5 separate regions of the Homo sapiens genome follow, and all the other regions are linked to region 5. The links come from fine-mapping of genetic effects on gene expression. A gene starts in region 5. Each other region holds a variant in brackets. All regions are shown on one strand. Distances are from middle to middle.

Region 1 (5,103 bases), 59 kb before region 5:
AGCTGGAAAGGTCCAGAAGTCTTAGATAAAAGGCTGAGCGCAGTAGCTCATGCCTATAATCCCAGCACTTTGGGACACCGAGGTGGGCAGATCACCTGAGGTTGGGAGTTCGAGACCAGCCTGACCAACATGGAGAAACCTCATCTCTACTAAAAATACAAAATTAGCTGGGTGTGGTAGCACATGCCTGTAATCCCAGAAACTTGGGAGGCTGAGGCAGGAGAATTGCTTGAACCTGAGAGGCGGAGGCTGCCGTGAGCGGAGATCATGCCATTGCACTCCAGCCTGGGCAACAAGAGCAAAACTCCGCCTCAAAAAAAAAAAAAAATCTTAGATAAAAGCATTTCCTTTTACCAAAGGCTCAAAGGAGGTGATGTGGTACCCTGAAAATGATTGTGGCATATTGTGTAACTCTCTACAACTGCCATGCTAAGGAGAAAGTAAAATAATCCACGGTTTCTATATCCTAACAAGCAGCCCTTGGGACCAGAGGGTGCCACATGAAAAGAACTAGTAACATGGTTCTCTCTTAGGGTATTTCCAAACCTCTAACAATCTCTTCAGTTGGAGTCCAGGCTCAGTAAACCTCCGGCAGTAAGAGTCAACTCAGAAAGGGGGTCTTGGTCTACTGCTATATTTAGGCAACTAAATGCAAAAATAAAGCTTTTCTAGGTATGGGCACACAGTTACAAACCCTTAGCATGAATGCTTATTTGTTTCACTTAGGCATAGAATAACATAGTTATTTTTAAAATTTTATTATTATTATTATTATTATTATTAATTTTTTAAGAGACATGGTCTCACTCTGTCACCCAGGCTGGAGTGCAGTAGTGAAATCATAGCTCACTGTAACCTTGAACTCCTGGGCTCAAGCTATCCTCCTGCCTCAGGCTTCTGAGTAGCTGGGACTACAGGCGCATGCCACCATGCCTGGCTAATTTTTCAATTTTTTGTAGAGATGGAGTCTCGCTATGTTGCCAGGGCTGGTCTTGAATTCCTGGCCTCAGGTGATCCTCCTACCTCAGCCTAACAAAGTGCTAGAACTACAGGTGTGAGCCACTGTGTCTGGCATGGTTATTTTATTGTATTTGAATTTGGTTCATAATATGAACCATCTGATCCTAAGATGTTCGAGCAGGCCCAGGAACAGACCCAGATCAGAATTCCTAGAAAAGTAGTAAGCATCCGACTGGGAGCGTTGGCTCACGCCTGTAATCCCAACACTTTCAGAGGCTGAGGCAACCAGATTGCTCAAGCCCAGGAGTTCGAGACCAGCCTGAGCAACAGGGCAAAACCCTGTCTCTACAGAAAATAACAATAATTAGCCAGGCGTGTTGGCACACACTTGTAGTCCCAGCTAGTAGGGAGGCTGAGATGGGAGGATCACTTGAGCCCAGGAGGTTGAGGCTGCAGTAAGCCATGATCACGCCACTGTACTCCAGCCTGGGAAACAAAGCACTATCCTATCTCAAGAAAGAAAGAAAAAGTATTACAGAATTGGAGATGGAATTGATCCTAAGATGACCACTTATATATGAGGCAGGATCTGTTCTACATCTGACAGGGAAGTCAGCCTGCCTCTGCCTGAACACTTAAGGGGATGGTGTGCTGTGGAACCATTTGTCCACAAAATAGAAAAAAGGAACTGGATACAAATCTTGTTGGATATAAACTGACCACTGGCCAATTTGCATTTTAGAGTCAGATTCTGGCACCAGACTGTCTGGGTTCAAATCTTAGCTCTGCCACTTATTTGTTATGTAATGTTAGCCATGTTACTTAATTTTTCTGGGCCTCAGTTTCCTCACTTATAAAATGGGAATAATAGTAAACTTATCCCATAGGGTTGTGAGGAGTAAATGAGTTAACAAATGTAAAGCATTTAAAGCAGGGTCTGGAACACGGTTTGAGTACTATTTAAATATTAGCTATTATTTGTCTGCAATTGTCTATTTCCCAGCAGTCACTGGCCAAAGGCAGCTCTGGAGATGAGTGAAAGGATAGGGGAAGAATTAGCATTCCACAGAGTGTGTGCTCACTCCTCCTAAGGTCTTCTCAATAAGCACCCGTCCAGGGAACAAACAGGTAGGGAGCCTATGACTCTGCCCTGCGAAGCAGATGTAGGAGGAAGCTGAGAGTGCCAAAGCCAATCAATCACCCCACACCTCTATCTGCCAGGACAGCCTCTCAGAATAAACAGTTACACAGATAGTCAAATTTCCAT[T/C]ACTAGTTTGAGAGCTAAGGATGGGGAGATGCTCCCAGGAAAGCTCAGAGAGATCTGAATTTGGGCCTAAGTAGTTGGGAGTTTTGAGGAAGGACACAAAAATGACAGGTTTTTTTGTTTGTTTGTTTTCTTTCTGGGGACAGGGTCTTGCTCAGTCATCCAGGCACTGCAGCCTCAATCCCCTGGGCTCAAGTGATCCTCCCACAACAGCCTCCCAAGCAGACACGACCACAGGTGAACACCACCATGCCTGGCTGGCTAATTTTTCAATTTTTTGTAGAGACAAGGTATTCCTATGTTATCCAGGCTGGTCTTGAACCCCGGGGCTCAAGCAATCCTACTGCCTTTGCCTCCCAAAGTGCTAGGATTATAGGTGTGAGTCACCACGTCTCGCTAAAAAATGACAGCTTTCAAACAGATAAGGAAGGGAAAGATAAAGACAGTGAGGAGTAGATGTTCCAGACACTTATGCCTTGAGATTACAGGAAAGCAGGCACCTGCTATGGAGAGCCATTCCTGGATATGGGAAAACACACAGTTTCCCCCAAAAAACTGTACATAACAGTCCTCTCAGCCCAAGGAGAGAAAATATGAGGATGGTTGGTCAATAAGCATAACCTATAGACGGTAATAAAATCAAAGGGAAGCACACACCACTTCTCCCACTGGAGCTCAGCCAGTTGCTCTACTGAGTGCACGTCTCCCAGATGATCTTTTCGTGGCCTTACCCTGTTGGGAAAGAGGGTGCACCTTCCTGCTGGCCTGGGGCATCCACATGACAGACAGCAAAGTGCTGGGTGATCTCTTGCATATCCTCAAAGTTAAAGAATGCATTGAAACAGGATTTATCTATAAGAATAAAAATACCCATAAGTCACAGGCTCTCCATATCGCCCCAATTTTCCTCTACTCAGTCAATGCCTATTATCACCTTCTTTCCCTGCTTTTTAACCACCATTCCACCAAAGTGAGGTGTCTGAACAATCTGTCTGATTCAAGCTGCCCTAAAGGCTGAATATAAGACATCTCATATTGAGATACATATTGAAAACAATTCTTAATTCTAAATAATGTCTGCAAAGTAGAAATTACTTTGTTAATATTTGGTGGTTTCCGATTATTGCACAAAATAATCTTACACCCATAATGCTGTCATTTCTCATGGACATTATTCCTCTATCTCACAAACAGACACTGATTATACCCCAAGAGCACAGGTGGCGTGAATGTCCTGAGCTGTTCACATTCACCACACGGGAGTTTGTCTCTTGGCAAAATTGCCAGAGTGAAGGGAGGGGCTGCTGCTTCCACTTCTACCCTCTTTGTATACCTGCTTAAATCACTTCTCATGCCAAGGCAGCTACAAAAGCTTTAACACTCAACTGTGGCCTCAAATGCAGGGCATCTATGAAAGCCAGAGCAGCATGAAAGAAAACACATGTATGCAGACTCTGTGTGTCTATGGCTGGGGCCAGAATCTTACACTACCATCTAGAAAAGTCCACTTAAAGTCACTGGTGACAGGCTCTAGCAAGAATTCTTACTAATTCATTGAAGAGCTCACAACAAAGTTAAGTTCCAACTCTGAATTTTCTAACCTGAAACATATTTAAAAAAAAAAAACAGAGTACAGGCTTGAAAACATGGATTTCAGTTCTACTTTCTTAGCAGTGCATTGTATAATCTGCAATCCTTTAGCAGACATGAAGGCGAGATGTGATTCCAGTATCCCCAGAATACATTCCCCTGCACACTTCCCAGGAACTTTATACCATTAACGAATGTAGGAACAAGGAGGGAAAGTTACCACAGAGAGGGGGAAACCTCTGCTCTATTAGAATATTGTTGTTGTTTGGTTTTTAACATACAAAGATCAAGTATGATAAGAAGGGAAGGTGTAAAATAAAATACATACGGTTGAGGCCAATGTCATGATATGTTAGTATAACTGGTCTGTTTCCTTTGGGTAAGCCTCTTATAGTGACGTGGACCACACCATGAGTTGTTTCTATATCATGTTCCTGTAACAAGAGAATGTAAGTTCTCAGAAAAAGCAGAATGAACTTCCCAGGTTGCCAAAGTTTCACAATACCTGCTTTACCACCGTTTCCCACGAGCTGGGGCAGGACACATTAATAAATTACATGTGGCTGGGCGTGGTGGTTCACGCCTGTAATCCCAGCACTTTGGGAGGCCTAGGTGGTCGGATCACTTGAGGTCAGGACTTTGAGGATCAGCCTGGCCAACATGATGAAACCCTGTCTTTACTAAAAATAAAAAATCAGCCAGGCATGGTGGCACACGCACATAATCCCAGCTACTCAGGAGGCTAAGGCTGGAGAATCACTTGAACCTGGGAGGCAGAGATTACAGTGAGCTGAGATCGTGCTACTGCATTCTAGCCTGGTGACAGAGCAAGACTTCGTCTCAAAAAATAAAATAAAATAAAATAAATGCATACCAGAGAGATGCTAGAGTATACATAATATTCCTACTTTCCAATTCTTCCAGAAAAATAAATAGGGAGCAAAACACACCTTGTTATCTCCAAAGCTCACTTACGAGCCCAGGGATCTGTTGAGAATACATTTGCAATTGGCTATGGAAAGGAAATCAGCAAATTGGGTAAGGAGCCAGGTAAGACTTGTGGGGAAAAAAGGAAATGGAAGATATGAAGAAGTTGCTGGGTAAAAAATCAGAGGTTTTGGAGCTTCTGAACACATGTTCAGATAATTTATAATTAATTTCAGTAGATAATTTCACCAGACACCTATGGGTGTATCTGCCTAGGATCCCTTCTTTCCTGGGAGCTGTCCTTCTGTGTCATCCACACGTTACAGGGGTGGATCTTGGCTACCATGTTTGTGGAACATAAA
Region 2 (5,103 bases), 40 kb after region 5:
TTCTTGGGACCCCAATTCTCCAGGGAATCCCCACTGTGGGTCAGGCAGTTTTCTGCTTTGGGAATGTTACCAAGACTTAAAAGGCATTTGAAGAAACCAACAAACTTAGAAATCACATTCCAAAAGAGTAGAGAATTTTTACAAACCAATCCCCCCACCCCAAAAAAGAAAACAACCAGTTACCAAGTAAAATGCTAAAAACCGAACCAAACCAATATTTACATGTAACATTTTCAACCCCATCCAGCCCCACGTCCAGAGGCTTCTGCAGGAACAGTGATGAGTGGCCTTGCACAGTGGCATGCAGGAAGTAGAAACTGGGGCTTTACTGAAAACCAAGGTCTGGCTGAGACAACAAAGATGGCAAGGACAATCCTGGACGGTACGATGGTAAGGCTGAGTGGTCCGTAGGTCTTGGGGCTCAGGTCCCACGGGGATTTCTCCCCGAGGCTGAGTACGCAGCCTCCCTGGCTGTCGCTCTGGGAGGTGGCAGAAGGCCTCTGGTGGCTTGTGGCCTGATGTGAATCCCCTCACCTGGAGATAACCTTGGAGGGCCCCCCTGACCTCATGGGTGAGAGCAGCAGCATCCAAGAGCGGAACTGGCCCACAGCTCCACTGGCTGCCTGCTCTGCCCACACCAGTCACTGGGGCATGGAGGAGGCGGCTGGCGGGACTGGCATGACCCTGGTGTTCAGCCTGCAGGGAAGGGAGATGCAGGACTTGGGGTAACTGGTCCAGGTGATCCCGAATGGGTGGGTCTGGGAACTGGCAGGTGGGAGGTGGGAGTGCAGGGGCGCCTCCAGAGTCCTGGGGGCAGATCAGCAAAGCTACTGGCTTTTGGTCTTCCTGATGGGCAATTCTGCAGACAAGCTGATCCATCCTGGTGTTTCCACTCTGGGTCCCCAGTCAGTTACAGGAAGGCTGATGTCTATGTGTGTGTGGGGAGCATGTGTGCAACCAAAAGGGGTTCACCGGCACCAAGGCGAGGCCATGGGAGGCGCTGCCCCACATGCTGCAATGAGCCACATCGAAATCCAACCAATGGCTCAGGCAGCTCACAGGGGACGTGAGGAAGGGCGGGCAGCAGAGCTGGGGCAGGGAGAAGAGCCGTGAAAGGCCATAAGGCTAAGGAGAGAGGCTGGTGAAAAGGCTGGCAGGCTGGTGAGAACCGAGGCAGGCTGGGAGACACTCAGGTTTATGTGCAAAGCTGCGATAAACAACATTCTCAAAGTTCAGTCCTGTTTTCCTGTGAGTTCTCATTTGGGAAACTTGGAGGGATCTCCACACTCTTAATAGAGCTTTAGTAATCCACGTTCGACTCATGAAGAAAGGTGTCAGAGGGAGGGAGGGAAATGAGACAGGCAATGGAGAACGTCTGGGGAGTGGTGATGGCCGTCCAGCCCTCCACCTTGTCAGTGAGTATTTATAGACTGACCGCTGGGGCTGGCCAAGTACCAGGCATTGAGTAATAAGTAGTGTTCTGAGGCCACATGGCCAGCCGTGTTGGGGTGCAGGGCTCCAGCTCTGTTGAGGGGCCCTCCAAAGCTGACCAGGAGGCCAGGTCTCCAAACCTGGCTGCCAAGCGGCCTCGTCCACCCAGGGGACCCCATGCCTGCCCGTGCTGTTAGAGGCCTCATGTTGTCCCAGTGGCAAGAATGCATGTTTCAACCTCCAATAAATTACCTTAGGGACTTTGGGGTAAATTAAATTATTAAAATAAAGTAAACCACCTTAAATATTTATAGTAGGAAAAATTCAAATAAACAATCTAGGCAAGATACGTGTTTCCAGGCCCCAGTCTACTGCTGTGTCCTGGGCTCTGGCCTCTTGGTGTTCTCCTGGGCCTGACCTGGCCAACCAAGAATCTCTTACTGGGAATATCTTTGCCCCCCGACCAGCTGCAGGATGTAAACACAGTGGAGATGTAGTGCCTGCTGCCTCTCAGGGTGCCAGGGAAAGAGGCCTCTGAGATCACTTGAGATCAAGGCAGTGTATTTAGGCATTTATCTATGCACCAGGTCTTGAGACTGACTCTACCTATTTCTGTCCTCAAGGGGTCTGCTGGGAACGTTGGGGCCCCAAGTCACTTTGGCAAGGAAGGCAATTGCAATCACTCCCCAACCCTGAGCCCTGCATGTTTCCACTTCGCCTCCCAGCTCTTGCTGCATCCAGGCTATGGGCAGGGAGATCCAGGGCTCCAGGACACTAAGCAATGGCCCTGGCTACTGCCCTATCATACTCCCTAGTGTCCCAGCAATCTAGAGCAGTGGGGCTGGGAGGAGGAGGTGGTGGAGAGAAGGAGGTGATGGTGATGATGCCCAACAGGGCTCCACCAGGAACCAAACATGGAGCCCTAGAGCAAAGCCTGTTCTTCTCAGCAGTGTCTCCTCCCAAATGAAGGGGTGGATGGTCAGCAGGAAACATCTCTCCGACTCCTTTTCCCCAAAGGCATGGCCAGACATGTATCCTTCTTGGGCTCTTCCAAGAGGGTGGCATGGGCAGAACCAGGCAAGGCTCTCTCTTAGGACCCAGGGATCGGCTCTTGACAGATCTCTCAGTGGATGCTTGGGAAGCCCAGGTTTGGTCTCTCTCCCACTCACTGCCTTCCCCTGGGAAGTCGAAGCTCACCACCCAGGGGCCAGCAGGAGACCCGGCTTTACCTTGATGTGAAAGCTGCATTCTGGCAGTGGCATCACTGCTGTCCCTCCAGGGCCAGGCAATGCTGAGGACACAGCCCCTCGCCTCACCTCGTCTCGTCTCTGCTGGTTCCCTTCTGCTATCCAGGGGCTGGGCTGGTTGAGGCGGGGAGCTTGGCTGCTCTGTCACTCGCTGGGGGGGA[G/T]TGCCCTCTCCTCCCCACCCCAGCTGGACTCTGAAGGGTGCAGCCTGCACTTGGAAGGAGAGTGGCGGATGGCAGAGCGGGACGATCGGGCGAAGCAGGAGGTGAGAGACTGGGTACTACAGTCACAAACAGCGTCCTAGGAAGAGGGAGGCAGGGAGGCAGGAAGTCAAGAGGAGCCAGGAGACATGGACCACCATGAGCTGTGTGGTATGCCAGGCAAGGAACTGAGACTCGGCCATAAACCAGTTCCCAGGGGCTGAAGCTCCTCACTGGACCAATTTTTTCTTTCTGTTGTTCTTCTCCCATTAGAGCGGTAATGGAAGTTCATTGTAATATATTCTAGGCTATACAGAGAGGACAGTGGACACTGTCCATGGTCCTGCACGCCAAAGAGATTCTTAACATACATTTACCAAAATGACAGCTTATTTTGCAACTGTAAAACACGAACACTTTTCTGTCACTAGGTATGTCTAGATCTCCTTCCTTTTTATCCTTTTTTTTCGTTTGAGACAGGGTCTCACTATGTTGCTCAGGCTGGTCTTGAACTCCTGGGCTCAAGCGATCCTCCTGCCTCAGCCTCCCAAACTGCTGGAATTAGCACCTTTGGGTGCTCATGCCTCCCAAAGGCATGAGCCACCATGCCTGGCTGATCGCCTTCTTTTTTAGTGTCTCTGTACCATTTCACTAGATAGAAATAACTGATTTATATACCCAATTCGCTTTTTTTATTTTTTTATTTTTTAGACAGAATCTTGCTCTGTTCCCCAGGCTGGAGTGCAGTGGTACGATCTTGACTCACTACAACCTCCACCTCACGGATTCAAGTGATTCTTGTGCCTCAGCCTCCCAAGTAGCTAAGATTACAAGCGTGTGCCACCATGCCTAGCTAATTTTTGTATTTTTAGTAGAGAGGGGATTTTAGCATGTTGGTCAGGCTCAAACTCCTGACCTCTAGTGATCTGCCCGCCTCGGCCTTCCAAAGTGGTGGGATTGCAGGTGTGAGCCACTGTGCCTGGCCCCAATTCACTTTTTATGTACATCTGGGTAGTTTCTAATTTTTTACTATTACCAATAAACAGAAATAATGATCAAAAGTGCTGCTGCCAGGCACGGTGGCTCATGCCTGTAATCCTAGCACTTTGGGAGGCTGAGGCAGGTGGATCACGAGGTCAGGAGATCGAGACCATCCTGGCCAACATGGTGAAACCCCATCTCTACTAAAAATACAAAAATTAGCTGGGCATGGTGGCATGCGCCTGTAGTCCCAGCTACTCGGGAGGCTAGGGCAGGAGAATCGCTTAAACCCAGGGTGCGGAGGTTGCAGTGAGCTGAGATTGTGCCACTGCACTCCAGCCTGGGTGAAAGAGCAAGACTCCATCTGAAAAAAAAAAAAAAAAAAAAAGTGCTGCTGGACAGCTGGCCATGGTGGCTCACACCTGTAATGCCAGCACTTTGGGAGGCTATGGCAGGTGGATCACCTGAGGTCAGGAGTTCAAGACCAGGCTGGCCAACATGGTGAAACCCCATCTCTACTCAAAATACAAAAATTACCCGGGCATGGTGGCACATTCCTGCAGTCCCAGCTACTTGGGAGACCGAAGCAGCAGAACGGCTTGAACTCAGGAGGCGGAGGTTGCAGTGAGCCGAGATCACATCACTGCACTCCAGCCTGGGGGACAGAGTGAGACTCCATCTCAAAAAAAAAAAAAAAAAAAAGTGCTGCTGGGCTGGGCCATGTGGGAGGCTGAGACAGGAGGATCCTTTGAGCCCAGGAGGTCAAGGCAGCAGTGAGCTATGATTGTGTCACTGGGCTCTGGCTTGAGCAATAGAGCAAGACCCCATCTCTTTAAAAAATAAATAAAATGGCCCGGGCGCGGTGGCTCATGCCTGTAATCCCAGCACTTTGGGAGGCCAAGGCGGGTGGATCACGAGGTCAGGAGATCGAGACCATCTGAAACCCCGTCTCTACTAAAAATACAAAAAATTAGCCGGGCGCGGTGGCAGGTGCCTGTAGTCCCAGCTACTTAGGAGGCTGAGGCAGGAGAATGGCGTGAACCTGGGAGGCGGAGCTTGCAGTGAGCCAAGATCGTGCCACTGCACTCCAGCCTAGGCAACAGAGCGAGACTCCGTCTCAAAAATAAATAAATAAATAAATAAAATAAAAGTGCTGTGATAGAGCCAAACTGCTTGGTTAAATCCCAGCTTTGCCAATTACTAGCTGTGTGACCTTGGGAGATTTACTTAACCTCTCTTGAGCTTTG
Region 3 (5,103 bases), 70 kb after region 5:
CTAAATCGCTCTCTTTCCCTGGAAATGAAAAATTCCCTGCCATTGCTCTGAGGATGAAGATCAAACCTCCCGCATGCTCAGTGCAGTCCAGCTTCACATTGTCTCTTCACTCAGTGTCCTGGACACACCACGCTCCTTCCGCCTCTGATCTGAGCTGTGTCTTTGCACAGGCTATTTGCTCTGCTGAAAACACTGTGTTCCCCCAGCCATCCATCCCTCTGACCTCTGGTCAGATCAGAGGCCTTCCCTCAGCATAGGGTCTAGGTCAAGTTCCTTGTTCATAAAACCATGTACGCTTCCTTCAGATTCCTCTCTCAGTGTCTAATTGCACATTCACTGACATGATATTTTGGGTGACTCTGCCCCACTAGATGATAAGGACCATGAGAGGGGGAATCATATCTGTTTTTGCTAATCATGACATCTTCAGCAGTGAGCACAAAAACTGTGTGAACAACAGACAAGGCATCATAAATTAACAAACTGATACATTGCGTTAAAAATATAAGTTGTGTAGTAACAATAGATATAAAGCAATCTGGGTGGAAAAACAAATATATGATAGATGTGTAGAGAAGGATTTAGAAGGACAAGCTGCAAGGATGAAATATTCTAGATCCACTCTACTAGACACACACAAATACTGAACATTTAAAATGTGACTATTAGGCCACACACAGTGGCTCACACCTATAGTCCTAGCACTTTGGGAGGCTGAGGCTGGTGGATCACTTAAGCTCAGGAGTTCAAGACCAGCCTGGGCAATATGGCAAGATTCCATCTCTACAAAAAAATTTAAAAATTATGGCCAGGCACAGTGGCTCACACCTGTAATCCCAGAACTTTGGGAGACAAAGGCGGTCGGATCACTTGAAGTCAGGAGTTCGAGACCAGCCTGGCCAACATGGTGAAACCCCATCTCTACTAAAAATACAAAAATTAGCCAGGCATGATGGAGGGCGCCTGTAATCCTGGCTACTTGGGAGGCTAAGAGAGGAGAATCGCTTGAACCTGGGAGTTGGAGGTTACAGTGAGCCGAGATTGCGCCACTGCATTCCAGCCTGGGTGACAGAGCGAGACTCCGTCTCAAAAAAAATAAAAAATAAATAAAAATTAGCTGGGTGTGGTGGTGCTCACTTGTAGTCCCAGGTACTCAGGAGAGTGAGGGGGGGAGAATGGCTAGAGCCCAGGATATCGAGGCTGCAGTGAACTGAGATTGCACCACTGCACTTCAGCCTGGCCAGCGGGGAGAGACCCTATCTCAAGAAAAACAAAACAAAACAAAGGAAAAAAATAAATAATAGGATCTGTGCATGAGGCACCTTACCTGAAAGTCTGAGCCAAGGTCTTTTGCCAGAAGAATCTCCTTAGAGAGCCCCTGGGAGCCCAAGGGGGGCAGTGATGAGAAGGACTCCTGCTGTTCCTTGACAGAGCACCCGAGGACTGCATCTGCCTTCCGCGTGAAGGCATTCAGCTCCTGCTGCAGCACGCTCAGGCGCACCAGGATGGCATGGATGAGCTTGGTGTCCCTGGGGCCCTCGCTGTTGTCGGGGGCCTCATGCAGCCGGAAGTCAGCACACTCGTTGTCCAGACACAGCCGGAGGCCAGCCGTGAAGCCATTGGCATCAGCCACCAGGACATCGATGGCCTTACTGACCAGGGCGGCCTGCTCTCTCAGCCCAGGCAGCACCTCGGCCTCCCTGGCTCTGCAGAGTCGGACCGCATGGGACTCGTGTGTCTCGCCCAGGGGAGCAGGCACACACTGGGCAGAGTCCCCGGCCTCGGCGTCCGTCTCCAGCATGGGCCGCGTACTCTGGCAGGAGGCGAGGTCACAGCGCTGGAGGTTGGAGAGGAGCACGCGGTTCTCGTACTGCAGCTTCTTGACCTTGCCGCTGAGCTCGCCGATCTGCAGCTTGGCGGCCGCCAGCTCCTCCTGTGAAGGTTCGCTGAGCACAGAACAACTGTCCTCCGACAGCGCCACGTCCAGCTCGTGCTCCGAGCGGAACTTGGCCAGCTCGTTCAGCAGCAGCTTGTTCTGGTCCTCGAGCTCGGCAGAGGAGCGCCGCAGCAGCTCGGCCTCCTCTTCGACAAACTGCAGGTGTCGCCGCAGCTCTGCCAAGCTCTCCCCGCACTCTCCGCCACCCAGCGCGGAGAAGGCCAGGCGTGCCTCAGGACCCCCACAGCCACCTCCATGATCCTTCATGTCGTCCATCTCAGCCCGCAGGCCTCGGTTCTCCACCTCCAGCTCCACGATGCGGCGGCTCAGCAGGTTGGCTTCCTCCTCCACCAGCTTCAGGTGCACCTTCAGCTCGGTCTCCCGCGAGTGGGGGGCATCGGCCAGCTCCTCGGCTGACAGCGCGCTGTCCAGGTCCCCATAGAGCGAGCGGTACTTCAGCAGCTCCTCCTTCATGCTGTCATTCTCCTTGGCAAGCTTAGTGAGCTTCTTGCACATGAGGGCTGACTCCTCCTTTGCAAAGTGCAACTGGCACTTCAGGTCTGCACTGTCCTCCTGGGACCACAGAGACAGACACAACCCAGGAAGGTTAGTGCTGGGAGTCTCAGTACCAGCCATGGCATTTTGGGGAGCACTATGTGCTGGGAACACAGGGATGAATCAGACACAGCCAGACCCTCAAGGAGCTAAGGGTCCGGGGGAGACGCAGAGGGGTAGATGTTGAAATGACAGCAAGGATGGGGCGCCACACATAGCCTGGGAGTACAGGAACAGGTGACATACTGATGAGCAACTGCTGCCACTACAGTTTCATCAGTAAAATGGGGCGGTAACATTACCTCCCTCCCAGAGCCACAGACGGGATTAAATGAGCTAAGGATGAAAAGGGCCTGGCACTCTGACAATCCCATACCACTAGGAGCTAACGGTATGTGGCCTTTGCTGCATATAGTACTTCATCCAATTCTTCCA[A/G]TGAACCCCCAAGACAGGGATAGATAGGAAATGGAGCCCAGAAACTCAAAATGACTCGCTCCAATCACATGGCAGTCAAGTGGCAGAGCCAAGATTCAAGCCTGGGTCTCCAACTCTAGACCTTTGGATTTGACTGTAGTGCTGCTTGCTAAGTTCCTGGCTGGGGTGGGGAGCGAGCATCTAAGCATCTAAGAACCATGGGCTCAGGATGTGGTTTTGGGAAATAAAGTGGGCAGTGAAACTAAGAAAATGAGCAAGGGGGCCGGGCGCAGTGGCTCACACCTGTAATCCCAGAACTTTGGGAGGCCGAGGCAGGTGGATTGCTTGAGGCCAGGAGTTCAAGACCAGCCTGGTCAACACGGTGAAACCCTGTCTCTACTAAAAATACAAAAATTAGCCAGGTGTGGTGGTGCACGCCTGTAGTCCCAGCTACTCGGGAGGCTGAGGCATGAAAATTGCTTGAACCTGGGAGGTAGAGGTTGCAGTGAGCTGAGATTGTGCCACTGCACTGCAGCCTGGGCAAGAGAGTGTGACTCCGTCTCAAAAAAAAAAAAAAAAAAGAAAAGAAAAAAAGGAAAATGAGCAAGGGGAGGACAGGGCAGAATCTGGGATCCCCAGGCCACTTAGAGTCAGGCTCAGGTCTTCAGAATAAAACCTTCCTACGGGGGCTGCTGGGAATTACCTGCACCAAAGTCTTCTTATCGGCCTTCCCCAGGGAGCGGGTTCCTCTTTTCTTCAAGGAATGCTGAAGTGAGATTTAATTAAAAAAAAAAAAAAAAGTCAGGACTGAAAGCTCACAGAATGATGCACATGCAGAGAGCTGTCACAGTGCCCAGGGTCCAGGGAGGGCCCCAGTCCCCAGGCCACCCCACCCTGATGGCACTGACTGTTGAGTAAGAGGAGCCCTCCAGATCACCCAGTGAGCAGCAATGGGAGATAGGCCAGAAGCATTGGAGAAGATGATTCTAAAAACACCTGCTCAGGGCTCCTCCCCTCCAGCCTGCTCCCATGTGTGACCCAGTTGGCCTCGGCGAAGACTTGGAAAGCTGTGTTTCTGTTCTCATTTGTCTTTCATCAAAGGATTTCCTGAGCACCTATCAAGCGCCAGGTAGGTAGGTGTAGAGAACACAGCAGTGAACCAGGGAGGATGTTGTGGTGCTTTGCCCAGATTCCCCTTCGGAACTGAGACACTCATTCCCAGAGCTGAGACCTCAAAGCTGAGTACCTCTCCCAGCGACAGCCATTGGTTGAGGAGAACCACCTTGTCCAAGGGCAGGTGCTATCCGTGGATGGAGCCCACATCCAGGGATGGGTCCATGACCCCTTGCCTCAGCTCTACAGGGAGGGCCATCCTAGCTCCAGAGCTCCCCATGGGATCGCCTGAGATCACTGGTGTAATTCAGCTTCCAGCTCTGCCTCACTCCCTGTGGTGTTGTTCCCAAGGAGACTCTTCCATAAACCTCTGCATGCAAATCTCCATCTCAGAGAAAATCCTGTCTTCATGAAACTGACATCTAGTGGGAACTGTAATTCAGAATGAATACTAATGGATAAAATGAATATGGAGGCTGGATGTGGTAGTTCATGCCTGTAATCCCAACACTTTGGGAGGCCAAGACAGGAGGATTGCCTGAGGCCAAGAGTTTGAGACCAGCCTGGCCAACATAGCAAGACCCTGTCTCAAAGAACAAACAACAACAATAAAATGAATATAACAAATCGTAATTACACATGAGGCTTAGAAATGGTCATAAGAGACTGATGGCAAACAGTGATTCAAAAATCCAGAAGCTGGTCTGGCATAGTGGCTCATGCCTGTAATCCCAGTACTTTGGGAGGCTGAGGTGAGAGGATTGCTTGCATTGAGGAGTTTGAGACTAGCCTAGGCAACATAGCAAGACTCCACCTCAAAAAAATAAGATGTTTAAAATCCAGAAGCAATAGGGGAAAAAATAGATACATTTGATTATACAAGCAAATTCTGCATGGAAATAAAAACACCTTAAGAAAAGTAAAAACATAAATGACAAACTCTGAAAAAATATCTGCAATGTACAACACCAACAAAGGGTTGATATCCTAAATATGGAAAGAGTTTCACAAACAGAGCATTAAAAGGCCAGCAGACCTGTAGGAAAATAGGCTAGAGATATGAAAAACAGTTCACAGGAAAAGAA
Region 4 (5,103 bases), 21 kb before region 5:
ATAGACACTAACCTGGTCTATAGGATTCTTGCCTCCTGGTATTCACATCCTTGCCTAATACCCCCAGTGAGTGTGCGCAGGGCCTGTGGCTTGCTTTTAACCATTAGAATACGGCAAAAGTGATGGAATGTACATGAGTGACTTTGCATGATTACATTATATAATATTTTCACATCTGTCTTGCTGAGGGACACTCTCCCCTGCTAGGTCTGAAGAGGCAAGCTGATGTGCTGTGAGAGGGCCACGTAACAAGTAACTGAGAGCAGCCTCCAGCAGAAAGACAGCAAGAAACTGAGACCTTCAGTTCAACAATCTGCAAGGAACTGAATGCTGCCAACAACAGGAGCCTGGAAGCAGATCCTTCCCCAGCTGAGTGTCAGAGAAGAAGCTGACCGACACCTTGATCGCCATGTTGCAGAGGACCTACACAGCCCACACCAGACTCCTGAACCACAGAAACTGAGAGACAATGAATATGTGTTGTTTTAGGCTACTACATTTGCGGTAATATTTTTATGCAGCAACAGATTAATACAATTAATACAATAGTCTTTGCTCTCATGGAGCACACGTTTTAGTTACTGAAGACGGATAAAGAAACAACATACTCAAAACTATGCTTGGAACAGACTGGAAGACGGATTAAGCGGGGACAAAAATTGAAGATTATTACTGCAGGATGAGGACTTGAATTAGGAATGGCAGTGGGAATGAAAGAGGAGGGAACCAAGGCTAAGCTTACTAATCCTCATTTGGGGAATCACAGCAGTGGGTGAAAGGTATGGTAGTCAGCTCCAAGATGGCCTTCAACGAGCCCAGTGATCCCTGACTCCTGATATTCATTCACACATATGTATAATCGCCCACCCAAATAAATCAGGGATGGCTCGTGTAACTAATAGAATATGGAGGAAGCAACAATATGTGACTTCTGAAGCTGCATCATAAAACGCATTACACTTTGTGCTTCAAGACACTATAAACTACTAGTTCTAGGGGAAGCTAGCTGCCAAATCATCAGGACACTCAAACAGCCCTCTGGCGAGGCCCATGTGGAGAGGAACCAACTTGCCAGCACCAACCTGCTAGCCATGTGTGTGAGTTACCTTGCAAATGAATCCTCCAGCCCCAGTCAAGAGTTCGGATAGCTACAGCCCCAGGGACACCTGACTGCAACCACATGAGAGACTCTAAGTCAGAACCACCCTACCAAGCCTGCTCCCAAGTTTCTGACCCACAGAAACCATGAGAGATAATAATTTTGTTTTAGAGTGATCTATAGCAATAGAGAACTAATACATAGGGAGAGCAGAATGGGGAGCTCAGAGAGAGGAGACAAGTTGGAGAGAGGTAGGCAGGGTAATGAACTACAAATTCTTCTTCTATCTCACCATGCAAGAAGCCATGGGGATAGGCTGCAAATACTCAATATTGCAGGAAAGTGATTCCCACCTAGACTTCAAAGCTTCAGGCATCATCCTTTTTGTCTTGGCCCTAAACCTATCAAGTCAGGAAAAATGTTAATTCAGAGTTGGGGATTTACATTTAACAACCATTTATTGAGTACCCATTGCACTATGGAAGATACAAAAAGGGTCCCTGCCTCTAAAGAGTAGAGATGATGTTGATCTACAAATTGATAAATAAAAAGAAGGGCCATAGGAATTCAAAGGAGAAGCAATTATGTCTGATTGGTGGAAATCAAGAAAGCCTTCAAAAGATATTAGTCTAGTGTGTGTGTGTGTGTGTGTGTGTGTGTGTGTGTGTGTGTCTGGTGTTTTTGTTTTTTTTTTTTTGAGACCTAGTCTTGCTCTGTCACCCAGGCTGGAGTGCAGTGGCACAATCGTGGTTCACTGGAACCTCCGCCTCCTGGGCTCAAGCGATTCTCGTGCCTCAGTCTCCCGAGAAGCTGGGACTATGGGCACCTGCTACCATGCCCAGCTAATTTTTGTATTTTTAGTAGAGACAGGGTTTCACCATGTTAGCCCGGCTGGTCTTGAACTCCTGCCTTCAAGTGATCCACACACCTCAGCCTCCCAAAGTGTTAGGATCACAGGCGTGAGCCACTGCGCCCGGCCTAGTGTACTATATTAATCCACTTTTCTGTTTACCTTCTAGAGATAGAATGACATGATTTTGATTTAATTACCTATGGAGAGGGTATGTGTTCCAGGCTACCTTTTAGCTATTATTTGCCAACACACTGAAATAAATCCTGCTCCCAGCTATGCCTATGTTAGAACAGACTAACAAAAAAGCCCTCTTATCATTTATTCAAGGGACTCAGAGGATGTCTATTGAGAACACTCCTCAGGCTATGAACCCCACATGCTAACTGTGAATATTCCAAAAGTGTGAACCACCTAGAGACCACAAATTTGATGATGTTTAACCTCCCTATAGGACAGTGGTTCTTTTGTCAGATCGCAGGCACCCATATACTTGATTGAGCTACTTAATGCCCAGAAGTTGAATCTTTTTTTGTTTTTATACCAGTCACATTTCAAAAGGGGGTGAGGTGGCTTGACTCTTAAACAGTGAGTTTCAGCCAGCATCTACATTCTCTTTTTCACAGTCCCCACTTAACTCTTAAAATATTGGCCTAACTGGAATCTACTCCATGTTTGTTTATTAATAACACTACAAACTGTGGCTACTTTTTATTTGAACTTTACTATTTATCAGTTATTTTAAATGGCAATTTAAAAGCGTTTTCCGGCCGGGCCCGGTGGCTCGCACCTGTAATCCCAGCACTTTGGGAGGCGGAGATGGATGGATCACCTGAGGTCAGGAGTTCGAGACCAGCCTGGTCAACATGGTGAAACCCCATTTCTACTAAAAGTACAAAGATTAGCTGGGTGTGGTGGCACACGCCTGTAATTCCAGCT[A/G]CTCCAGCAGGCTGAGGCACGAGAATCATTTGAACCCAGGAGGCGGAGGTTGCAGTGAGCCAAGATCTGTCAACTGTACTCCAGCCTGGGCAACAGAACAAGACTCTGTCTCAAAAATTTAAAAACAAAACAAAACAAAACCAGCTTTTTCCCTTTTATAAAAGCAATATGTGCTCACTTTAGAAAATATGAAAATCGGCCGGGCGCAGTGGCTCACGCCTGTAATCCCAGCACTTTGGGAGGCCGAGGCAGGTGGATCATTTGAGGTCAGGTGTTCAAGACCAGCCTGGCCAACATGGAGAAACCCCATCTCTACTAAAAATAAAAAAAATTAGACAGGTGTGGTGGTGCACGCCTGTAATCCCAGCTACTCAGGAGGCTGAGGCAGGAGAATTGCTTGATCCTTGGAGGTGGAGGTTGCAGTAAGCTGAGATTGCGCCACCGCACTCCAGCCTGGGCGACAGAGTGAGACCCTGTCTCAAAAAACAGAAAAGAAGAAAATATGGAAATTGGCCGGGAATGGTGGCTCACGCCTGTAATCCCAGCACGCTGGGAGGCCAAGGTGGGTGGATCACCTGAGGTTCGAGACCAGTCTGGACAACATGGTGAAACCCTGTCTCTACTAACAATACAAAAATTAGCTGGGTGTGGTGGCAAGCTCTGTAATCTCAGCTACTCGGGAGGCTGAGGCAGGAGAATCGCTTGAGCCTGGGAGGCAGAAGTTGCAGTGAGCTGAGATCGCACCACTGCACTCCAGCCTGGGTGACAGAATGAGACTCCGTCTAAAAAAAAAAAAAAAAAAGAAAAAAAAGAAAATACAGAAATCACAGAATAATGAACAGATAATTTACTCATTGTCCTTCCACCTAAAGAAAACCATTTTAGCCTATTTCCACTTGTTTTTCTTTTTCCCACTTAAATGGTGATTTCCTGAAATTGTTTTTTCAACTCACCCACTTTATCCCTACTTTAATTCACTCACTGGAAAGCAATGCACTTCAAGATGGGAATTATTCAAATATGACTCCACATGGGTGGGCCTGTCAAAGGGTCAGAGAGAGGCCTAAGGTGCCCTCAAGTCCAAAGTGACTGGCATTCACCTAGTGTTCCTTTTTTTTTTTTTTTTTTTTGAGATGGGGTCTTACTCTTTCACCTAGGCTGGAGTGCAGTGGCACAATCATGGCTCTCAACCTCCCAGCCTCAAGCAATCCTCCCACCCCAGCCTCTCACACAGCTGAGACAATGGGCATGTGCCACCATGCCTTGCTAACTTAAAAAACATTTTTTTTAGAGACAGGAGTTTCACTATGTTGTCCAGACTACTCTTGAACTCCTAGACTCAAGCAATCCCCCTGCCTTGGCTTCCCAAAGTGCGGGATTACAGGTGTGAGCCACCATACCCATCCCTAAGTATTTTTTTAAAGATGAAGAAAAATGCAATTTTTACACCAACAAACACTTAAACAAAGACACAAATTAAATGAGAAGGCTGTCCCTATCAGCTAGGCCCAATGCAGGCTCAGGCGACAATGTTGTGCAGGACAGTAAGCTGCTCCAGGGTGACTCAGGATTTGGCAACTTGGCAGTAGACATTCACCTTCCACTATTAGGGGATCTAATGCATTCTTCTGGAGACTCCATTTTTGCTCCGCTTTCAATGTCTCAAGCCCTTGCCAATGAGCAGTTTTATAACATATACAAGAAAACTAAGATTCTGGTGGAAAACTCCATCTCCAGATCCCTCAGCTGCACAGACGGGCTCCCTCCTGGGGATCCAAGGCCTGCAGTTCCGGCATCTGTACAAATGGTATGGCTGCCAGATCCCATACAGGTACTAAAAGCTATTAATATTTTCAAAAGGCAAGTAGGGATTTTATAAATTGCAGTCAATAATTTTTGCCTGTTTCCTAGTCATATGAGTAGGAGGGAGGATTGATAAGGAAAAACTAGCCATCTTCAAATTAAGGAAATGAATCTGATACCAAATGGCTAGAAAGGGAAAGGAGAAAAGGTGGCTACCTACTCTGTCAGGAATTATAATCTCGGCACCTTATGTTTAATCCTCATAACAATCCTCTCTGGTAGATATCTTTCTTTCTTTTTTTTTTTTTTTTCCTGAGACAAGAGTCTTGCTCTGTTGCCCAGGCTGGAGCACAGTGGGGCGATCTTGGCTCACTGCAACTTCCGCCTCCCAGGTTCAAGTGATTCTCCTGCC
Region 5 (5,103 bases):
ATCCGTCTCCACTAAAAATACAAAAAATAGCTGGGCATGGTGGCGGGCGCCTGTAATTCCAGCTACTTGGGTGGCTGAGGCAGGAAAATCGCTTGAACCCAGGATGCGGAGGTTGCAGTGAGCCGAGATTGCGCCACTGCACTCCAGCCTGGGCAACAAGAGCGAAACTCCGTCTCAAAAAATAATAATAATAATAATAAAACAAAAGCAGCTCGGCCTGGCTTGGTGGCTCACGCCTGTAATCCCAGCACTATGGGAGGCCGAGGCAGGCGGATCACGAGGTCAGGAAATCGAGACCATCCTGGCTAACACGGTGAAACCCTGTCTCTACTAAAAAAATACAAAAAAAATTAGCTGGGGGTGGTGGCGAGCACCTGTAGTCCCAGCTGCTCAGGAGGCTGAGGCAGGAGAATGGCGTGAATCTGGGAGGCGGAGCTTGCAGTGAGCCGAGATGGCGCCACTGTACTCCAGCCTGGGCAACAGAGCGAGACTCCGTCTCAAAAAACAAACAAAAACAAACAAAAAACAAACAAAAAACAAAAGCAGCTCAATCGTGAGTGCACGTTCAAGTAACATAAACAAGCTTTTTTTTTTTTTTTTTTTTTGAGACGGAGCTCTGTTGCCCAGGCTGGAGTGCAGTGGCGCGATCTCGGCTCACTGCAAGCTCCAGCTCCCGGGTTCACGCCATTCTCCTGCCTCAGCCTCCCGAGTAGCTGGGACTACAGGCGCCCACCACCACACGCGGCTAATTTTCTGTTATTTTTTAGTACAGACGGGGTTTCCCCGTATTAGCCAGGATGGTCTCCATCTCCCGAACTCGTGATCCACCCACCTCGGCCTCCCAAAGTGCTGGGATTACAGGCGTGAGCCGCAGCGCCCGGTCCATAAACAGGCTTTTTGATGCAAGACTCTTATCTGCAAGTTTTCAAAAACAACAGGGTGGATGGAGGCCTTTGAGTGGTAAATGGTGATGACAAGTTTAATCTGAAGGAAGAGACAAGCAAAGAGAAACTGAAGGGCAGGAAGGAGGAACAGAAGGGCACCAGAAGAACACCACGCTTTGAGTAATGAAAAGGGGGGGTGGAAATTAACTGAGTCCTTACCAAGGATCTACTGTGAGCCAGGCATCTGGAGCTGCAAAGATGGACCATGCCCTCAAGGGGCTAGAAGTCCGCAGGGTAAGACTGAGGCTAAGACCCTGTTTTGTGAACGTGTAATTCTAATTGGGAAAATCAAGCAGGGAAGGCTTCACAGAGAAGGTGGTGATTTAGTGGAGCCTTTGAAATGTGGAGGAGGATTTGCTAAGGGAGAAAAACGACAGTTTGAGCTAGTTATTTTGGGGGAGAAACATTCACATATTTTTATAGCTGTTCATTTGGAACTTTAAATCATGGGAGGCTTCTTAAATTCAGCACCACTCTATCAATGTTCTCTTTCTCTTCTTGCTTTATCTTAAATACTGAAATGTTCAAGCCCAACCTTGGGGCAAAGGCAGAAAGCCTCGGACAGAAAGCCCCGGAATGAGGTGAGTGCTAGCCAAATCTGCTCTGTCACCTCCAAGTCCAGCCCGCCCAGCTAGCCCAGTCAGCCCAGTCCTGCTCTCTTGGCAGGAAAGGAAGGCTAATAATATCCCCTGAGGGCCAGGGTAAGGGGGGGGGGGGGCGCGGCGGGGGTGATCTGGATGCCAGCAGGCAAGGATCACTCTTGTTCTGTCAGTAAGCCACCAAAGGAAAGCTTCCCTGCTTCCTAATCCACGGGGCTCCTAGTCTACCTGTGATAGGGAGGCCAGCTCTGCAGGAAGAAAAAAAGGGCTTCATGACAAGGAAGGGGGAAGCATTTGGATTGGGAAGTGCAGAGGTGGTTATGCGAGGTTATCTTAATAAAATGCTTAGCAAGATCCCTGGCACACAGCGAGCGGTGGAAGAACGTTAGCTCTTATATTAATAACACTATTATTATTACAGTAACACCTCAATTGTACTCCGACAACAAGAAAATCTTTTTTGTGCAGCCTACTTTTACGACGTTCGAGAGCAACTTCAGAGATGACAAGTGATTTCAAAATTTTTTCAAAGGTACGAGATCAAATTCCAACCGCACTGGCCTGAGAGCCCGAGACCCTGAGTTGAGAGCTGACCCTGCCACTTGTCAGCTGCGTGACCTTGGGCATGGCACTTCACCTTTCCGTGCCTCAGTTTCCTCGGCTGTTAAGTGGGGCTAAGAAGCCTCTCCCCGGTAGGGTAGTCGTAGGGTCCCGTTAGAGGATGCCCTCTGCTGCTCTGGGGCCGGACGGGTGCAAGGGCTGCTCACGGCCCCTCTTCCAAGCATCTGGGCTCTTGGAGCGGGCGAGGTAGATGGATGAGCAACCCCAAGGCCCACCAAGCTCTGCCGCCTGCAGAGCCAGAGCGAGAGAAGGGTTCGCGCCTGCGGGGGGCGTCCCTGTGACCCAGGGTGTTGAGCCCGGAGGGAGGCTCTCTTGCTACCCACACGCTGTCGCCGGCGGGCTGGGCGCGGGGAGCGGCCGAGGAAAGCCGGGCTGACCTGGGTCCGGCGGGCGGGCGGGGCGGGGCAGAGGGCCCCGGGGGCACGGGGGAGGCAAGCAGCACGGGCCACCAGGGCCTCGCCGTGCCGCGGAGATGATGCGGGGAAGGAGCAGGGCAAAGGAGCGACGCCCCCGAATGCGGCGCCGCGCGCCCCCCGCGGGCCGGGCGGAGGCGCTCACTCACCTGAGGCGCGGGCACCCGCCGTCAGTGCAGCAGCAGCGGCGGCGGCGGCGGCGGCGGCGGCGGCGGCGGCGGCGGCGAGAGGGGCGGGGGAGGTGCTGCGGTCCGCGCAGGCGCGCCGAGGACGCCAGGGCGGCGCATGAGTGCTGTGCCCGTCCACCTCGGGAACTACCGAGAAGATGGTGGCTGAGCCAGGAGAGGCCGGCGGCGCCATCTTTGATGTAGTTTTTCTTGCTGCGGAGTTTCCTCAGAGAAGAATCTCAGATTTTGGAGGCGCTGGGCGGCAGGGCCATTGAGCTCTGCGTCTGGAGCGCTTCCCTCAGTTCCCTGAGTCGCATCCTTATGAAGCCCCTAAGAGCTCTTGCAGGGTATGGCATCCTCCTTTTAAGGTGACCTAGAGCCATACCCAAGGTCACAGGGCGCCTAGCACAGTGCTCGGCACGTGGAAAGAGCTTAGTAAATTTTTGGTGAATGAACATAGTAATTTAAGAACTAGAGTCCAAGACTCAGGGCTCCGAATTACCAGTCCTCCATTGTATCACCCCTATTACAACCGTCAGCCAAATCATCTACTTTCTTGAATGCAACATTAGAGATGGAATTTTTTTTCCCAGAATGATTGCAGATATTAAACTTAATGACCCAACAATTTAACACCAAAATGTACAGGACACACTCTTCCTCTATTTATTATCTATTATTTCTTTACCATTAAGTACCACTGACTAAAAGTTTTTTTGTTTTGTTTTGTTTTGTTTTTTGAGACGGAGTCTCACTCTGTCGCCAGGCTGGAGTGCACTAGCGCGATCTCGGCTCACTGCAACCTCTGCCTCCTGGGTTCAAGCGATTCTCCTGCCTCAGCCTCCCGAGTAGCTGGCACTGTAGGCGTGTGCCACCGGGCCTGGCTAATTTTTCTATTATTAGTAGAGACGGGTTTTCACCGTGTTGGCCAGGATGGTCTCGATCTCTTGACCTCGTCATCTGCCCGCCTCGGCCTCCCAAAGTGCTGGGATTACAGGTGTGTGAGCCACCACGCCCTTTTAACCCGAGCCAGTGTCGCCATCTCGGCTCAGGTTCCCAAGTCCCTCAGCCTCCCAAGTAGCTGGGACTAGAGGCGGGCGCCACCATGCCTGGGTAATTTTTGTATTTTTTTTTTTTTAGTAGAGATGGGGTTTCACCATGTTGGCCAAGCTGGTCTCAAACTCCTGACCTCAAGCAATCCGCCTGCTTCTGCGTCCCAAAGTGCTGGGATTACAGGTGTGAGCCACCACGCCCGGCCACTAAAAGCATATTCTTTTAATTAAGGCAAACTGAACAAATGAATATTACCAAACATCTCAGAGGGCAGCAATAATATTGTTATTCATCAAGCACAATTCTTGAACTGAATTTAGTTGGAAGGAAAACTAACATTAATTGAGCACAGCCATTTATTTTATGGTTTATGTTCGTTAACATTTACTGAATTCAAATTAGTTCTAGTTCACCATCCACTATTTATCCCTATGTCCTTGGTTAGACAATTAAGTCTCTCCACACCTCTCCATGCCCGAATTCCTCATCTATGTCACACACCCAGAAATAGAAGTTACAAGGTTGTGGCAAAGACTGAATGATAATATGCATGTAAAATGCTTAGAGCTCAGTAAGTATTATTTTTCTTTGTTCTATCGTATTTTACTGTTGAAGACACAAAACATACTTCTTGAGTTTGAAGAAATCCTTATAAGCAAAAAATGCAATACAATGTAATAAATAAAAAGGGGGAGGGTATAATCATCTTTAGAGAGATAATCTGTCCCCATTTTACAGATGAGGAAATTGAGGATAAAATGAAAATTCATGGCCGGGCGCAGTGGCTCACGCCTGTAATCCCAGAACTTTGGGAGGCTGAGGCGGGCAGATCATGAGGTCAGGAAATCGAGACCATCCTGGCTAACAAGGTGAAACCCCGTCTCTACTAAAAATACAAAAATTAGCTGGGCGTAGTGGCGGGTGCCTGTAATCCCAGCTACTCGGGAGGCTGAGGCAGGAGAATGGTGTGAACCCGGGAGGCAGAGCTTGCAGTGAGCCGAGATTGCGCTGCTGCACTCCAGCTTGGGCAACAGAGCGAGACTCCGTCTCAAAAAAAAAAAAGAAAAAGGAAAATTCACTCCAACTCTCTCCATTGTACTACTTTGTTTATGAAAGAGTAGGCAATTAAGAGCATTTCTCTGATTCTTGAGATACAGATAGAGATAGATATAGACGAGGGTCTCACCATGTTGCTCAGGCTGGTCTAGAACTCTTGGACTCAAGCAATCCTCCTGCCTAGGCCTCCCAAAGTTCTGGGATTATAGGCATGAGCCACTGTGTCCCGCTCTGCTCTGATTCTTAAATG

Which allele goes with the higher level. Positions count from the first base shown, and alleles are read on the strand shown. Sizes are in standard deviations (SD) of each study's normalised expression. Not every link is listed here.
As copies of G replace A in region 3, the expression in stomach of the gene that starts at base 2,772 in region 5 goes down (small effect, 0.37 SD a copy in GTEx).

The links.
Region 1: its variant is fine-mapped to the expression of NDRG3 in whole blood (INTERVAL, PIP above 0.99).
Region 2: its variant is fine-mapped to the expression of NDRG3 in whole blood (TOPMed, PIP above 0.99).
Region 3: its variant is fine-mapped to the expression of NDRG3 in stomach (GTEx, PIP 0.94).
Region 4: its variant is fine-mapped to the expression of NDRG3 in whole blood (TOPMed, PIP 0.98).

What each region holds. Positions count from the first base shown.
Region 1 is chr20:36,684,537-36,689,639 of GRCh38, forward strand. NDRG3 (NDRG family member 3) reads right to left here. Exons shown (of 16, transcript NM_032013.4): 4 at 4,143-4,248; 5 at 2,956-3,076. Among named protein-coding and RNA genes, the nearest start is that of SLA2, 41 kb to the left of the region's middle. The variant T/C (reference allele first, on the strand shown) is at 2,228.
Region 2 is chr20:36,783,663-36,788,765 of GRCh38, forward strand. MTCL2 (microtubule crosslinking factor 2) reads right to left here. Exons shown (of 15, transcript NM_080627.4): 15 at 1-2,975. The coding sequence ends at 2,823. Among named protein-coding and RNA genes, the nearest start is that of DSN1, 12 kb to the left of the region's middle. The variant G/T (reference allele first, on the strand shown) is at 2,840.
Region 3 is chr20:36,813,799-36,818,901 of GRCh38, forward strand. It overlaps MTCL2 (microtubule crosslinking factor 2), which reads right to left. Exons shown (of 15, transcript NM_080627.4): 4 at 3,609-3,671; 5 at 1,328-2,509. Among named protein-coding and RNA genes, the nearest start is that of DSN1, 43 kb to the left of the region's middle. The variant A/G (reference allele first, on the strand shown) is at 2,927.
Region 4 is chr20:36,721,929-36,727,031 of GRCh38, forward strand. All of the region lies in intron 1 of NDRG3 (NDRG family member 3), which reads right to left. Among named protein-coding and RNA genes, the nearest start is that of NDRG3, 22 kb to the right of the region's middle. The variant A/G (reference allele first, on the strand shown) is at 2,889.
Region 5 is chr20:36,743,319-36,748,421 of GRCh38, forward strand. It overlaps NDRG3 (NDRG family member 3), which reads right to left and starts at 2,772. Exons shown (of 16, transcript NM_032013.4): 1 at 2,727-2,772. RefSeq lists enhancers at 2,235-3,201, 2,926-3,025 and silencers at 2,396-2,585, 2,616-2,815.